Regions from separate parts of the Homo sapiens genome. Here region 1 is linked to region 2. The links come from fine-mapping of genetic effects on gene expression. A gene starts in region 2. The other region holds a variant in brackets. All regions are shown on one strand. Distances are from middle to middle. Region 1 overlaps LYPLA1-TCEA1 (LYPLA1-TCEA1 readthrough). Region 2 holds the start of TCEA1 (transcription elongation factor A1).

Region 1 (5,379 bases), 55 kb before region 2:
CAGGTTGGTCTCGAACTCCTGGGCTGAAGCAATCCTCCTGCCTCAGCCTCCCAAAGTGCTGGGATTACAGGTGTGAGCCACCAAGCCCAGCCTGGGAACAACTGTTGAGTGAAACTCTCTAAATCACAACTCTAACTGTAGTTTTTATTTTGAGAAATGGCTGGGCACAGTGGCTCAAGTCTGTAATCCCAGCACTTTGGGAGGCTGACGCAGGCAAACTGCATTAGCCCAGGAGTTCAAGACCAGCCTGGGCAACATGGCCCATCTCTAATAAAAGCACAAAAATAGCTGGGTGTGCTGGCGTGCACCTATAATCCCAGCTACTCGGGAAGCTGAGGTGGGAAGATCACTTGAGCCCAGGAGGTGGAGGTTGCAGTGAGCAGATTGTGCCACTGCACTCCAGTCAGGGTGAATGAGTGAGACCCTGTCTCCAAAAAAAGAAAAAAAAAGAAATAAAGAAAAAAGAAATAAAGTCAATTCAAATCCACAAATTACAATTTGACCCACAAGGACAACGACTATGTAGCTATAATAATTCAAAGCACAGCCTGTTATTTCTTTTGCTGTCTTCTTAATACTTAAAATATTTGCCATTTGTAAGATTACATATAGGTTTAAGTGATTGGGTGAATATAAATATTTCTGAATTTTTGCCACAGCTTAGCAAAATTTATAAACCAATGCTCGTCATCATCCAGGTAAGCTAGAAAACCAAGATTATCATTTTCTGCTTTCCCCAGGATGGTTCTTCATTATCTGCTAGTATATTTGTCTAATTCCTTTGCATGTTCATTTAACAAAGTTACTTTGCCCTCAAAGTAAATATCATAAAATACTACCCTTAATATTTACTTCTGATTACTTTACAAATGTCTAGTATTGGGCCGGGCACGGTGGCTCATGCCTATAATCCCAGCACTTTGGGAGGCCGAGGTGGGTGGATCAGCTGAGGTCAGGAGTTCGAGACCAGCCTGACCAACATGGTGAAATGCCATCTCTACTAAAAAATACAAAAATTAGCTGGGCATGGTGGCGGGCGCCTGTAATCCTAGCTACTTGGGAGGCTGAGGCAGGAAAATCGCTTGAACCTGGGAGGCATAGGTTGCAGTGAGCCGAGATTGCACCATTGCACTCCAGCCTGGGTGACAGAACAAGACTCCATCTCAAAAAAATAAAAAAATAAATAAATAAAGTCTAGTATTTTCCAATAGCAAGACTCACTATTTGGTCTCTCACATTAAATTAAGTGTACACATGGGATGCACTCACGTATTTACTCAGAACCTGCCATTCCATCCATCGCCAGAGGTCCAGGAAAAGATAAGAAAGAAAACATGCTCTGTAATGCTGCTGAATACTAGTTTTTACTGAAGACCAGGCTTCACTTAATTAAAACTGTACTTTAGAAATACCTTAGTAGTTGAGGGGACAGCAGGTGTGTGGTTAAACAAAAGGTAAAGCAAGCTTCATTGTCTAAATAAAATGACAAAATGTGATATATGTTTAACAACAAAAAAAACTTTATTGAATTACAAATTTTAAAATGGATCACTTAAAAGTGAGATTATTTTATTCTGAAACATTATTTCAAAAATGTACTTTGTTTTTGAAATAAAACAAAATCTTCAACTATGAACTGACAAAATAGAGGTGAGTTGGTACCAGTGGGCCAATTCTTAACACGGACATTTAAAAATGCTGCTTTCTGTATTACAACAAAATGATATGCAATAAGAAATTGGAAAAAGGGAGCAAAGGAGAGTGCAAAGCATGTACTGAGGTCTTTCTACGGGTGCCTGACAGAATGCAGATTCAGCATAAAATGTAGACTTTGCAACAGTGGCCTTTAAAGTATGCTAGAGCAAGTGTACCCTAGGGAACCTATGTCAAAACAATTTTTGTCTTACTCCAAACAGAAAAAATGGTACACACTTTAACAAAAGCAAAACTTAATTGTAAGATCTGTACTGTAAAGCTACTTGCTATAGCCCATATATTCAGTTTGTTCAACAATCTCACTCATGACAGAAAAAGTCAGCAAATAAGACTTGGGACAAAATTATTTTCTATCAGTCTCCACATGGAAAGACCACAGCTTTAATGAATTATACAATCCTTAAGATTAATCCTTGGTCAGTATAGATTTCCGAATCAAAATCTAGTCATGAACTGTTTACAATAGCTATACTACACTAAGATGCTAAACATTTTCTTTCCAGTATGTCTTCCTAAGAGGGGAAAAAAATAGTGGGAAGTTTTCATCTTTGCCTATGAGGGGATTTATGAAAAGCCTTCTAAACTACAACAGTGTTCTTCTGCAAAACTAAAACACATTATAAAGTCAAACAGGTAAATTAACAGGAAAACCAAACTGATCTCAATAAAGTCTTGTTTCCAAAAATCTATTAAGAACAAGTAATATACATGTACAAGAAATTACAAGAAATGATGATCACGGTTAGTTACAGATGCAAAATAATATCTAATATTCCAAGCTTGTGAACATAATAATTAAAATCAAATTCATAAGCTACCTCAAAATTATGTACATTTTAGATAAGCTGGTCAAGTATTATTTGAATACACACCATATTTGGTAAACCTAAAATTATATTACCTTTTCTCCTCCTTTAATATTTGTAGCTACATGCCAATATGGAAAAAAATGTATTTTCATTTATGTATTAATAACAGAGAGTAACAGAATTTCTACTGTGTATGTTTCACAGTGTAAAAGAAAAAAAGTTAAGGTATATTTTCCTTTAAGAAAGAAGAAATATTGCCAAGAGTTTAATTAATATCAACTTACTTATAAAAACAGAAAAAATATGTTTTGAAACAGGTACCATA[A/C]AATTATTATATGGTCTCCCTACTGATCTGAAACTACAGAAGGCATTTAAGGAAGGGATGTTAGGTCAAAAACAAAGTCTAACCCAAGTTGCTTTAAAAATTTGATTTGCAGGAAAACTAGTTGCTTGGCCTAGTTTAAAGCTAGTTACAAAATCCGTTTTCTTAATGGTCCAGATATTTTGCCAATTCTTCCAACTCAACAGAACTGTCAAAAAAGAAAAAATATTTTGTAAGACCTTTAAATACCAATAAGGTACATTCCCCATTTAATACAGCATACACCTGATATTGCTTTTAAAAAAGATGCATTTTTGAAAAAGATGCTGTATTTTTCACACATAATAATCACCTATCTTAAGTGCCTGACTTTCCCAACTTAGAACTACTAGGAACATACAACTAAAGAACTTGTATAAAACAATTTCAGCATTTTTATTAAATACCTCTTTATAATGTTTTTAAGGTTAAAAAAAAAAAAATAACAATTCCAAAATTGAACTTCTAAAATATGCCACTCTAGGCATCAGCTTTCTATCCTAAAATTGAACTTTCTTAAATTCAATTAAGTACTATGTCAAAACTTGTGTCACAAAGTGCATGTATTCAAAGCAAACTGCACTGTACACCTCATCACCATAATAAAAATGATCCATCAGCTGGGCACGGTGGCTCACACCTGTAATCTCAGCACTTTGGGAGGCCGAGATGGGCAGATCATGAGGTCAGGAGATCAAGACCATCCTGGCCAACGTGGTGAAACCCCGTCTCTACTAAAATACAAAAAATTAGCCAGGCATGGTGGTCCCAGGTACTCGGAAGGCTGAGACAGGGGAATCTCTTGAACCCGGGGCCACAGAACAAGACTCCATCTCAAACAACAACAACAACAAAAAAGATCCATCATGCAAAACAAATCCAAGAGAACAGGCCAAATTTTCTCAACACGATTGAAAAAGAAGGTGAATGTCCCTCTCCTAGACCAATGACAACTTCTGCAACCTGAGATGGGTAGGAAATACTGTTTCAAACCATGAAGACACTTTCAGTAGCAGTAATCTTTCCAGCTCAGAACTAAATCTTTGTACGTAATAAGGGTACTGGGCCGGCCACGGTGGCTCACGCCTGTAATCCCAGCACTTTCGGAGGCCAAGGCAGGCAGATAACCTGAGGTCAGGAGTTCAAGAGCAGCCTGGCCAACATGGTGAAACGCCATCTCTACTAAAAATACAAAAATTAGCTGGGCATGGTGGCACATTCCTGTAATCCCAGCTACTTGGGAGGCTGAGGCAGGAGAATCGCTTGAACCTGGGAGGCGAAGGTTGCAGTGAGCTGAGATAGCGCCACTGCACTCCAGCCTGGGCAACACAGTGAGGATCTATCTCAAAAAAATTAATGAATAAATAAAACAAAATAGGTACTGGCCCCAACCCCTTAAAGTGGAGTTGAAGAAGCCAAATGGATATCTTCGACATGGTTTGGGACTCTGGCCCAAATGGCTTCTAGTTCATTTCTGATTTTCAGAAAGTGCTTTAAGCTAAGTGAATAATTCAAAATGAGCATTAAACTGAAAAGTCTATGTAAGTATAAATGAAAAAAAAAAGAATCTTGTACAAACTTCAGAAAAACTAATAAAAATAGCCAGCATTTTTAGAACACCAACAATTATCAGGCACACTAAATATATTATCTCTACTCTTCATCACAATCCGAAATGTAGGTACTATTTACATTTAATACATAAGAACAATATAGTTCAGTAATGGGAAGTGGCAAAGGAGTTCAAAATCAGTTTGTATGATTCCAAAGACTAAACTCCTACCACGTAAGCCTCCCAAACTCACACCCTTAACATCCTCATCTATAATAATGATTAAAATGTTTTTAGTACTGATATGTATTTCTGCTCCCAAATTTAAATTTTATGCTTTTGTTTCACAAAATCCCTCAAGAATGAATCATTTAAATAATATAAACTTGCCTGTGTGGGACTAATTTCAAGAGCACACAGGCAATATGAAGGCTTAGTGAAAAGCCTACCAAATGACAGCAGTGCTCATCTGTAATTTCTAAAATAAACACTAAAATCATTGGGTCTGATTTCAACAAGGGAAAAAAAATTTTCCAAAATCAAAATCTATTAAAACAAGTAATACACATGTATAGATTTTCTGGAAGTACAAGAGTCAAAACAACTTAATGAATATAGTATAAATAGGACAGTGATATAATAATTGAACAGTTAAGATTCACTCCCCATTTCCTGCACCAAAACAAATAAAGGTGGTAAAGTCAAGTTAATACTCTTTATTTCTAGTAGGGTAACAAGATGGTATATTCCATTACAAGTAGTCAGGGAGTACAAGAGTACTGTATAGTGTGAGCATATCTGTATATATTTAGATATCTAGGCAGACCTATGAAAAGACCAGAAGAAATCTTTCTATTTTAAGTGAGTATATAATATGAATCCAAGAGAGTCCATACCTTCCATCGATTTCCACATTCATTACAGACAACAAATGTTGTCAT
Region 2 (5,379 bases):
TGGAGTTTATTCTCATTCTCTTCCAGACTCATTACAAAAGATCTGAAAATTTGTTGACGATTTGAGAACTGCAGATAAATATGAATTTATCTTCTCCACACCTGCCCACTAAAAAATTACTTAGAAACATTATTACAAGGAAAGAAACAAAATCAAGCAAACATCTAATGCATTAGATGATTAAAGGATACATATTACAGCCTAAGTTGGAGAGAACATTACCCAACAAATGGCTTTTTTTCCCTGGGAGCTTCTACTGTGCAAGTCTGGGGATCTCCAGACCAGAGAAAAATCTTCCAGTTTAAACAAAATAACGAAAATGTTCCAATAACCAGATAACCTATCAAATAACCAGAATTTGAAGTGGGAAATGAAGGGCCATATCAATGGGGAGGAAAAATGGCACTGGTAATATCTAGAACAGAAAATAAACAGGAAATACTTTAAAAGGCCAAAATTTGCAAATACAGATTAACAGGGTATGAAATGAAATACGAGGCAATGCACCTGTTAAAGGAAAAAGGGGAACAGAGGATGTTTGAAGTCTTACGTATTTAGTGTTAACACTAATTCCTGATCTAGCTGTCATGTGGAAAGCATGCTGTCCAGAAGAAAACCTGGGTCCTGGCTTATTCCAAACTACACAGTACTTAATTTAAGTAGTAGTACTTAATCTCTCTCAGTGTCTTAATCTGTAAAATGGATACCCTTTATGTACTCACAGCTCTGTGTGAGTCACAAAAGAATTTTGAGCAGATGCTTTTTAACTCCAAAGTGCTGTACAAATCAGAGCATCCCTTTTCTCTTCACATTAGTTTGACATGGAATTTACTTCATAGATGGAAGAAAAATTATTTCAGGTACACTGATGATGAAAATGTGCCGAACGTGGTTAAACAAATTTAGGTGAGGACAATTATATAAGTTTACCTGAGAGGCCAGGCGCAGTGGCCTCACGCCTGTAATCCCAGCACTTTGGGAGGCTGAGGTGGGCGGATCACCTGAGGTCAGGAGTTCGAGACCAGCCTGGTTAAGATGGTGAAACCCCGTTTCTACTAAAAATACAAAAAAATAGCCAGGCGTGGTGGCGCACGTCTGTAATCCCAGCTACTCGGGAGGCTGAGGCAGGAGAATCACTTGAACCCGAGAGGCGGAGGTTGCAGTGAGCCGAGATCAAGCCATTGCACTCCAGCTTGTGCAACAAGAGTTAAACTCCGTCTCGAAAAAATATGTTTAGCTAAGAACAGATGAGTCTGAAGCAAGGGACTGAAAGTGCCACACAAATGGGCAAGCTGTAGAAACTGGTCGTATGAGGATTTCTTACAAACCACAAAAGCATATGCTTACATGAATATTCATCAATAACAAAAAAAATGCCACCAGTATTAACTGTAAACCACTTAGAAAATACCCAACAATATAATTTGTCCAAATCCCTCTACCAGCATTCCGGTGAGTGTGCGTGCTGTAGTCCTAACTCTTCTGTACATTACGACAGGACAAAACCCGCTTTTTATAAAACGTTTAGCAACTCGCCAAGAAACTGGCACACTTTACCTTTTTAATCGCTAAGCAAACATGTAGCACAGTTGAGATAACCAGGCGGACGTTCAGCCCTCTTCAAAAATAAGACACAGAAGTTTTACATTTTACCAGCCCGATGTCTAATACCGATCACAAGCCTCTATTTGATGCTCTTTCTAGATGTTGGCCACGGATCACGGAAGACTCCATTCTTTCAAGTTCTGAGGACTTTCTACGCTTCAATTCCTAAGCTAAATTGCCAAGGTTTTACTAGCACGAAAGTTTAAAGTCAACGGAGAGCGTGCCCTAATCCCTAAATCGATTAGGTTTATTACACGGCACCAGCGAGCAGGGACTGGAAATACAAGAGCGAGCGGGTCCTAACGCAGGTTGCCGCGGGACCCGACGCCCCGGGCCCGGACACCCTCCCCGGGGACGCGGGCGCGGCGGGCCCGGCTCCCAGACGGGAGGCTGCAGGGGGAGGGGAGGGAGAAGGAGGGAGGGGGCGGCCCCCTCGGGCCGGACCGCGGCCCGGCCTCCCTCCCGGCCCGCGCCGCTCGCCGCGCTCACCGCGTTCTTCTTCTGCACCATCTTGTCCATCTTCTTGGCAAAGCGGACCACTTCGTCCTCCATGGCTCCGGCAGGTCTTCTCCGCGCCCACCCCGCTGGCAAGGGGAAGTGGGCGAAGCTGGAGCGGAAGACACAGCAGGAGCGACCCCCGGCGCGCAGCAACCCCCACCACCGCAGGCCCGGGCCTAGGCCCCCTTCCTTACGAACGAAGCCCGCGGCGGCGGCGGCGGCGGCGGCGGCTCCGGCTCCTCCTCCCCAGGCAGCGACAATCGAACACCGCGCGCGACGTGCAGGCGCTACCAACTGACTGCAGATCGCTGGTGAGGGGCGAGCCCATGTTCCCGCCAGGCGGGCGTCGGGCTAGTGGGCAGGCGTGGCTTCCGGCTAGAGGGTCGTGGAAGGCGCCCGGTTTTGCTGCGCGTTCACCTCCGGTCCCGCCCCCTCACGGGGCGGGTTTTCGGCCCCCTATTGCATCGGGACATCCCGGAGTTTTAGAACTCGCGGAGGCCCAAGTATCTCGAAACGGGGGCAGATTCCGAGCATGGAACTTTGGCAGGTTTTAAAGTCTGTGGGAAGCCAAGCACTTTCTCCATAGGAGACTGCTACGGGGAAAAATGGAACCCGTGTCCTCTAAGTTAGGTTACGGAGTTACTCGTTTTAAGAGTTCCTTTTTTTTTGAGACGGAGCCTCGTTCTGTCGCCTGGCTGGAGTACAGTGGCGCGATCTCCACTCACTGCAAGCTCCCCCCCCCGGGTTCAAGCGATTCTCCTGCTTTAGTTTCCCGAGTAGCTGGGACTACAGGCGCCCGCCACCACGCCCTGCTAATTTTTTGTATTTTTAGTAGAGACAGGGTTTCACCATGTTGGCCAGGATGGTTTTGATCTCTTGACCTAGTGATCCGCCCGCCTCGGCCTCCCAAAGTGCTGCGATTACAGACCTGAGCCACTGCACCCGGCTAAGCGTTCCTTTTTTTAAAAAAAATCGGCCGGGCGCGGTGGCTCATGCCTGTAATCCCAGCACTTTGGGAGGCCGAGGCGGGCGGATCAACTGAGGTGAGGAGTTCGAGACCAGCCTGACCAACATGGAGAAACATCGTCACTACTAAAAATACAAAATTAGCCGGGCGTCATGGCCTGTGATCCCAGCCACTCGGGAGGCTGAGGCAGGAGAATCGTTTGAACCCGGGAGGCGGAAGTTGCGGTGAGCCGAGACTGCCATTGCATTCTAGCCTGGGCGACAAGAGCGAAACTCCGTCTCAAAAAAAATAAAAAATAAATAAAGGTGAAATCGTTCGTGAGCTCCTGGAGTACTAAGAACCAGTCTTGGGCATGGCATTTTGAATAGTTGAAGAACAGTTGACGGAAACCTTCTGGTCAGAAATTACACAAGGCATCCCACCAGCTTCTGAGGATCAGAGAGGAAGGTGACTTAAGTTGTGACAGGGTTCATAGTGGAGAATGCAGGCTCCTCCAAAAAGTCTTTCCCCACTTAAACCCTTCACGACCAACTCATGCTATTTGCAGGTATAACTCCCACACCACGTAACTATCATTCATCAAAATACACCGCCTAATAATGTTCTTTCTATACTGAGATGACAGGTTTTTCCTGGTTATGACTCACTCATTTGGGGGAGAAGTATTGGGATCGTTTCCCTATTTTGTTTCATTTTTAAATTATCTTTTTATTATTGATTTCCAGCTTAAATTGTAGTATTTGTTGAGATTTATTTTGTCAATTTTTTTTTTTTTTTGACACGGAGTTTTGCTCTTATTGACCAGGCTGGAGTGCAGTGGTGCCATCTCGGCTGGCTCACTGCAACCTCCACCTCCCAGGTTCAAGCGATTTTCCTGCCTCAGTCTCCTGAGTAGCTGGGACTACAGGCGCCCACCAGCACACCCGGCTAATTTTTTGTGTTTTTAGTAGAGACAAAGTTTCACCATGTTGGCCAGGCCGATCTCGAACTCCTGGCCTCAGGTGATCCGCCCACCTCGGCCTTCCAAAGTGCTGGGATTACAGGCGTGAGCCACTGCGCCCGGCCTATCTCGTCAATTTTTATGCATATCTATGTGTTCTAAAAAAGAACACACAGAAAAAAATTGTTTTCTACAGAAAATGTTGCAATATTTACATCCCTGTTTGCTGTCTGCTTCATGCCTCAATTAATGAGTATGTAAAAATTTCCCTTTATAATGTGGATTTGTACATTTATTGTAATAATTCTGTCATTTTTCTTTTTTCCCAAAGAATCAGTTGATGTTTTTCTTTAAAATACACATAACACAAAATTTATCCATTTAACTACTTTTCTTCTTTTTTCATGCTACCTTGTCTAAGACCATTTTTAACTATTTTTTTAGATTTTAATTCATTTTATTTTATTTTTTATTTTTTTTTAGACGGAGTCTCGGCCTATCACCCAGGCTGGAGTGCAGTGGCGTGATCTCGGCTCACTGCAACCTTTGCCTCCCAGGTTCAGGCAATTCTCCTGCCTCAGCCTCCCAAGTAGCTAGGATTACAGGTGCCCACCACCACGCCCTGGTAATTTTTGTATTTTTAGTAGAGATGGGATTTTACTATGTTAGGCAGGGTGTTCTCAAACTCCTGACTTCAGGTGATCTGCCCACCTCGGCCTCCCAAAGTGCTGGGATTGCAGGTGTGAGCCACCTCACCTGGCCTGTTTTAGCTATTTTAAAGTGTAAAGGCCTGGTGTGTGCATACCCAGTGTGCATGGGATACAGCAAAGGCAACACTCAGATGGAAATGTATAGCTGTAGATACCTATGTTTAAACATAAAGATCTCTGGCTGGGCGCAGTGGCTCACACCTGTAATCCCAACACTTTGGGAGGCCAAGGTGGGCGGATCACCTGAAGTCAGGAGTTCGAGAACAGCCTGGCCAACATAGTGAAACCCCGTCTCTACTAAAAATACAAAAATTAGCTGGTCCTGGTGGTGGCCGCCTGTGATCCCAGCTACTCGGGAGGCTGAGGCAGGAGAATCGCTTAAACCCAGGAGGTAGAGGTTGCAGTGAGCTGAGATGGCGCCACTGCACTCCAGCCTGGGTGACAGAGCAAGGTTCCGTCTCAAACATAAATAAATAAGTAAATATAAAATAAAAAAGTGTACAATTCAGTGGCATTTCTAATGATAACAATATAGTGCCACCATCACCACTCGATAGTTCCCAAAAGTTTTCCAAAAATGTTCATCACCTCAAAAAGAAACCCAGTATCAATTAAGCAGTCACTCCTGATTCCTTTCTCCCCTCAACCCTTGGCAACCA

Evidence for each region. PIP is the estimated chance that this variant, and not a neighbour inherited with it, causes the effect. A credible set is the group of variants that fine-mapping cannot tell apart.
Region 1: its variant is the best candidate, but not a certain one, in a credible set for the expression of TCEA1 in blood mononuclear cells (TOPMed, PIP 0.76).

Annotation. Positions count from the first base shown.
Region 1 is chr8:53,965,058-53,970,436 of GRCh38, forward strand. It overlaps LYPLA1-TCEA1 (LYPLA1-TCEA1 readthrough), which reads right to left. Exons shown (of 21, transcript NM_001425842.1): 20 at 5,335-5,379; 21 at 1,499-3,055. The coding sequence ends at 3,047. It overlaps TCEA1 (transcription elongation factor A1), which reads right to left. Exons shown (of 10, transcript NM_006756.4): 9 at 5,335-5,379; 10 at 1,499-3,055. The coding sequence ends at 3,047. Among named protein-coding and RNA genes, the nearest start is that of TCEA1, 55 kb to the right of the region's middle. The variant A/C (reference allele first, on the strand shown) is at 2,851.
Region 2 is chr8:54,019,969-54,025,347 of GRCh38, forward strand. It overlaps TCEA1 (transcription elongation factor A1), which reads right to left and starts at 2,480. Exons shown (of 10, transcript NM_006756.4): 1 at 2,095-2,480. The coding sequence starts at 2,157. The region is part of intron 12 of LYPLA1-TCEA1 (LYPLA1-TCEA1 readthrough); the gene reads right to left. LOC133039971 (Uncharacterized LOC133039971) reads left to right here and starts at 2,065. Exons shown (of 3, transcript NR_189620.1): 1 at 2,065-2,414. RefSeq lists silencers at 1,929-2,098, 3,226-3,533 and enhancers at 2,219-3,012, 2,269-2,418, 3,013-3,804.